Linked DNA regions of Homo sapiens: region 1 is linked to region 2. Evidence: fine-mapped expression QTL. A gene starts in region 2. The other region holds a variant in brackets. All regions are shown on one strand. Distances are between the middles of the regions.

What was found. PIP is the estimated chance that this variant, and not a neighbour inherited with it, causes the effect.
Region 1: its variant is fine-mapped to the expression of RANGAP1 in whole blood (TOPMed, PIP above 0.99).

What each region holds. Positions count from the first base shown.
Region 1 is chr22:41,244,303-41,247,211 of GRCh38, reverse strand. RANGAP1 (Ran GTPase activating protein 1) reads left to right here. Exons shown (of 16, transcript NM_002883.4): 16 at 540-2,433. The coding sequence ends at 609. Among named protein-coding and RNA genes, the nearest start is that of CHADL, 4.8 kb to the right of the region's middle. The variant G/A (reference allele first, on the strand shown) is at 1,646.
Region 2 is chr22:41,284,771-41,287,679 of GRCh38, reverse strand. It overlaps RANGAP1 (Ran GTPase activating protein 1), which reads left to right and starts at 1,493. Exons shown (of 16, transcript NM_002883.4): 1 at 1,493-1,694. RefSeq lists enhancers at 601-650, 971-1,040, 1,071-1,290, 1,721-1,790.

The DNA of each region.
Region 1 (2,909 bases), 40 kb after region 2:
TGGTGGTGGGCGTCTGTAGTCCCAGCTACTCGGGAGGCTGAGGCAGGAGAATGGCGTGAACTCGGGAGGCGGAGCTTGCAGTGAGCCGAGATCGCACCACTGCACTCCAGCCTGGGTGACAGAGCGAGACTCCGTCTCAAAAAAAAAAGAAAAAGAAAAAGAAAAAAAGCAACCAAAAAAACAATGGCTAGCCATTTACTTATGATCCAGATTGGACTCTAGTGGGCCAGTCCTATGTGGCCACTGGCAGCCAGTAAGGATTCCCTGGCCTATGTCTGCTGGAAGGGCCCTTGGAGAGCCTGGCTGAGGGGGCCTTCATTCTGGCCAGCTCTGGGCTGTGTGGCGTTGGGTGCCTGGCTCTCTGAGCCTCTCGCACCTCCCATCCCCACCCACGGTGTGCAGAAGGCAGAGGGCTAATGTCTCTCTTGCTGAGTCGTTGTGCAAATTAACAAAAATGAGTCTGGCACCAAAATGGCCCCCACACTTGGAAAACAGGCCAAGAGGCATCCACCGACCTGCTGACCCCTCTTTCCCCGCAGGCCCAACAGCGCCCTGGAATCCTGCTCCTTCGCCCGCCACAGTCTGCTGCAGACGCTGTACAAGGTCTAGACTCAAAGCCTCTCCCATCCCTTGGCCTGGACCAGTGAGCTGGGGAGGGACTCGGATGAACTGAGGCGCAGCCTACGCCATTGCCTTGGACAGGACTCTGGCCACAGGCAGGGCGGGTCTGTGTCCCATGTGTCCTGTCAGTCCCCTGAGTATGTGTGTGGGTGTGGCGCATGTGCAGGTCTGTGCCTCCTGTCGGGATTTGGGTTTTAACGTCTTCTGCTGGCCCAGCCCTGCTCTGTTGTGGGGAGTTGGCCCCCAGGGGAAAGGGCTGTGAGCTGCTCCGCCATTAAACTCACCTCCACCTGAGGGCGCTCTGCTGATCTCCGCCTGGGCCCTGATGGCCGTCCCCACCCACCTGCCTTCCGGCCCGGCTCCCTGGCGGAGCCAGAACCCAGGGAGTTGCCCGCGTGCTGTCCTTCCCCTCTGTGTTGTGATTGGGTTGTTTCCTGCCCTGCCTGGGGCTGCTTCTCGTCACCAAGCCCTGGTCCTGCGGCAGCTGTCACCCCTACCATCCATACCACTGTGCTGACCGCTCAGCCTGAAGAGCAGAGAATGCCATGGGTGGGACTGTGGGGGTCGGATCGTGGGGTTGTTGGCAGAGGGCAACCCTGGGCCCCACACCGTGTGGACAGGCAGACACCAGATTGTCCAGGAGCAGGAGCTGCTGGGACTGCGCTGGCCCCGGACCTAGTGGGCCTTCTCCTGGCTGCTGAGATGTCGTCTGTGACTGGCCTGGCTGGAGGGGGAGTGTTGACAACCCAAAGCTGTTCTCCAGTCTGGGGAGGGAGAGGCAGGGTCCCCAATGTCCGAGCTGCATCTGGACGCTGCTCTTAAAGGACCTCCTGGGGCAGGGGAGCGGTAGGGTCTGGACTGGGCAGATGCTGTATGACCTCCCTGAGCACCCGTGACTGCCCCATGCTTTCCCCTTTGTGCTCTGTGTGTGTCTGGGCTGTGCCCGGGGGCTTCACAAATAAAGTCGTGTGGCAGCTTCAGAGACTCAGAAACTCTCACTGAAAGCGGGATAGTCTCGGGGGCC[G/A]TTGTACGTGGAGTCCCACCTCGGCAGAGCATGCGGCCCCGCAGCAGTCTGTGGGGCAGTCAGCCCTGCAGAAGGGCCCGGCCTCGGCCTCAGGCCACTACCTGGGAAGTGGCAGTCCTGAGTGGGGGCCCATTTTCCTGCCTGGCCACACCTCACCCAGCACCCTGCCTTTGGGCTGCAGCTCGCTTGGCTTCTGCGTTGCTCCTTCACTATGGAAGCCACCTCCCTTGGGATCCTTTGCTCCACTGCCACATATGTGAGGACAGCCCAGCCAACCTTCCTTACCTCCTACCCTACACCATGTATGTGCTTTGGGAGCCCATGTCCCCCACAAACGGCCTCCAAGAAGTCCCTCCAAGGTTTCTTAGAGGGCAATATTTTCTCATTGGCAGTCGGCCACGTAGGTGACCAGGTGGCAGAGGATACTGCTGGCCCTGTCCCCTGTCTTCTGTGTGAGTTGATACGGTAGGGGGTGGGTGTGGGGCTGGCATTAAGTTCTGATGCCAGCTACAACGTGGATGAACTTTGAAAACATGTTAAATGAAATAAGCCAGACACAAAAGGACAAATATGATTCCATTTAGATGAGGCATCTAGAATAAGCAAATTCAGAGACAAGAAGGTAGAGGTTGCCAGGGCTAGGGGAAGGGTGGAATAGGGAGTGAGGCTGCAAACAGATTCTCTGGGATGATGAAGATGTTCTGGAAATGGAGAGTGGTGATGGTTGCATAACATTGTGAATGTACTTAATGCACTGAATTGTACACATAAAAATGGTTAAAATGATAGATTTCATGTATTAATATATTTTACCTCAGTTAATGTTTTAAAAATTAAGCAAAACTATAGAGCTTCACCCGGGTGTGGTGGCTCACGCCTGTAGTAATCCTAGCACTTTGGGAGGACGAGGCGGGCAGATCACTTGAGCCCAGGAATTCAAGACTGGCCTGGCCAACATGGCAAAACCCTGTCTCTACTAAAAATACAAAAATGAGCTGGGTGTGGTGATGCATGCCTGTAGTCTCAGCTACTTGGGAACCTGAGGTGGGAGGATCACCTGAGCCCAAGAAGTGGATGCTGCAGCAAGCCGTGATCGTGCCACTGCACTCCAGCATGACTGACAGCGAGACCCTGTCTCAAAAAAGAGAGAGAGAGCTTGTAGGAGATAGTGTAAGTGAGTATCTTCAAGGCCTTAGGAGTGAGGAAAAGATGAATAAATTAAGCTGTATTTAACCTCCTTTGCCATTATCGTGGGATGTTCACA
Region 2 (2,909 bases):
TTTTTCTTTTTTCAGTTTTTGAGACAAGGTCTTGCTCTGTCGCCAGGGCTGAAATGCAGTGGTGCAATCACGGCTCACTGCAGCCTCAAGCTCCCAGGCTCCAGATCCTCCTGCCTCAGGCCCTTAGCTGAGACTACAGGCTTGCACCATCACGTCCAACTAATTTTTGTATTTTTTGTCGAGACAGGGTTTGACCATGTTGCCCAGGCTGGTCTCACACTCTCTCGCCTATAATCCCAACACTTTGGGAGGCCAAGATGGGCAACAAGAGTGAAACTCCATCTCAAAAAAAAAAAACAAAAAAAAAACGCTGTTTGTGTTTTTATGCTTAAATTCACACCTACAGAAAAGTTGCAAAAATGTTCAAAGAACTCCCATATTCTTCAACCAGATTAACTGATTAACATTTTGCCACATTTGTGTCTCTGCTTTCTCTATGTATATGTATAGGTATATTTCTTTTAACCATAAAGGTTGCAGACATCATGTCCTTTTTGTCCCTAATTATTTCAGCATTTTTTTCCAAGAACAAGGGCAGTCTCTTACATAACCCTGTACCATAATCAAAATTAATAAATTTAACATTGATACAATACTATTATCTAATATAGTCAAGTTTTGCTGTTTCAGTATTGTCCTTTATAGCAATCCCCACCCAGGATCCGATCCAGGACCATGTCTTGCATTCAGTTGTCTTTTTCGTTTCCTGTAATCGGCAACAGTTCCTCAGTTTTTCTTTGTCTTACATAATACAGACATTTCCGGAAGGGTACAGATCAGTTATTCTGTACCATGTCCCTCAGCTTGGGTTTCTCATGATTAGACTAAGGTCATGCATTATAGACCGGACGGTGACGCCGTGTTTTTCTCAGTGCATCACACAGAAAGCGTGCGATGAATGTCAGCTTGTCCTGCTGTTGATGTTAACGTGGCCGTTCAAGTGGTGTCTGCGGAGCTTCTCTACGATAGTTACTATTTCCCCTTTTTAATTATCAGGTAATTTGTGCATATTTATGTGGAAGCCTTCGAATGCCCTTTCAGTTTCATGGGACGGAAAAGAGTCTTTTCTTTCGGGAAATGGATACCTGTGTCTTGCCCAAGAGACCCAGCAGCCAGCAGTACCTGTTATCAACAAAGTTACGCGAACAAAACCTTTCCGGAAGAGCTGAGGGACCTGGGTGCAACGCATTCTGGGAATTGTAGTCTCTGGGCGCTCCCGGCTGAACACCTCCCTGCGGTCTCTGCGAGAAAGAGCCAGAAGCCACCAGGGGAGGGCGAAGAGGAGGGCGGTGGAGGACGCTCTGCGCGCGGTGCGCCATGGGACGGGTAGTTCGCGGTGCGCGCCCCATCGCGCTCCCAGATGGGGAACCGGACTACTCTACCCGAGAGGCCGCGCGAGCGGGGCGAGGGCAAGCCGGCCGGGGCCTCGAACAAATCAAATCGAAGCAAAGAAACTGCCGGCTTTCAAAATCCTCCTCCTCCGCCATCATCCGCCGCGGTGCGGAGAGCAGGTGGTGCTGGAAGCGCGTGAGGCCGGGAGCTCGAGAGAGCTAACAGACTAGCCGGCTGGACATCTGGACCGCTGGATCCGGAGGTGGCGACCCCGGCCTGACCCGGACCCTAAATCCGTCCCCGCCCCAGAGGGCGGAGGCGCGCGCTCGATTCCCCCCACGCGGCGGCGCCGCCTGTTTACGGTAGAGTCAGGGTCCCTTTCCTTTCCCCGTCACCTGCCTGGAACAGGGGTGCGGGGCGAGGAGGGCGTGGCGCCCGTGTGCGCCTTCTGCCTGCCCCCTCGGCCTTCTTCACTTAGCCTTCGACGGCCGAGCGCCCCAGGGGTGGCGGTGGGAGTGGGGTTGTTGAGCGGCGCTGGCTCCTTTCACAAATGGGGAAACTGAGGCTTAAAGGGCGTCTGACTCGCCAGAGCAGCTCAGCCTGCAGCTGCTAGCAGTGGCGTCTCATATTAGCATTGTTGTCAACCGGAGGCGGTGCGAGTCCGCCGGGGATTCCAGATGGGGCTCCTGCGCCGCCCGCCTATCATTTGCGGCCTGTATTCGCGCGTCGCTCCCGCAGAGCCACCTCCCAGCAGGCCCACGCCCGCGGGGGCCCCGGGCTGGCGCCGCTGTCCCTGGAATCGATGTGAGTCACTGCTGACGCTTTGCAGGAGCATGCATCTCACCTCAGAAAGTCTCTGACGTTGCTGCGGAGCGGGGAGAGGATGTTTCTCTATTAGCCCTTTGCTTTTGCTCTGGCGCTGATCCTTTGCTGACCTTGGACAAATCAATTTACGTTTCTGTGCTCCAGTTTCTTGGTTTATAAAGTGAGTGTGGAGGGGTGCATCTCTGTCTCGCTCTCTCTTGGACTGAGGAATGGGCCCCCGTTCAGCTGAGAAGTTCTGTCCCTATTCTATCTGGAGGCTTCACCACCACCTTTTACCCTCAAATTGTCCCATCTCAGAACTGCAAGAGATGCTGGGGTTTCAGGTTAATTTTTTTGTTGGTTTTTCTTTAAATTTTTTTATCTTTTTAGAGACGGTCTCCTTCTGTCACCCAGGCTGGAGTGTAGTGGAACGATCACCGCTGAACTGCAGCGTCGGCTTCCTGGGCTCAAGCGATCCTCCCACCTCAACCTCCCAAGTCATGGGGACTACAGATGCCATCACACCTGGCTAATTTTTAAATTTTTCTGTGGAGACAGGGTCTCATTCTGTTGCCCAGGCTTGTCTCGAACCCTGGTCTAAAGTGATCTTCCCGCCTAGCCTCCCAAAATGTTGGAATTACAGGTGTGAGTTATTGCACTGGGCTGGTTTCTGGTTAATTTATTTTTTGAAACAGGGTCTCCAGAAGTACAGCAGCAAGATCTCAGCTCACTGTAGCCTCCACCTACGGGGCTCAAGTGATCCTCCCACCTTA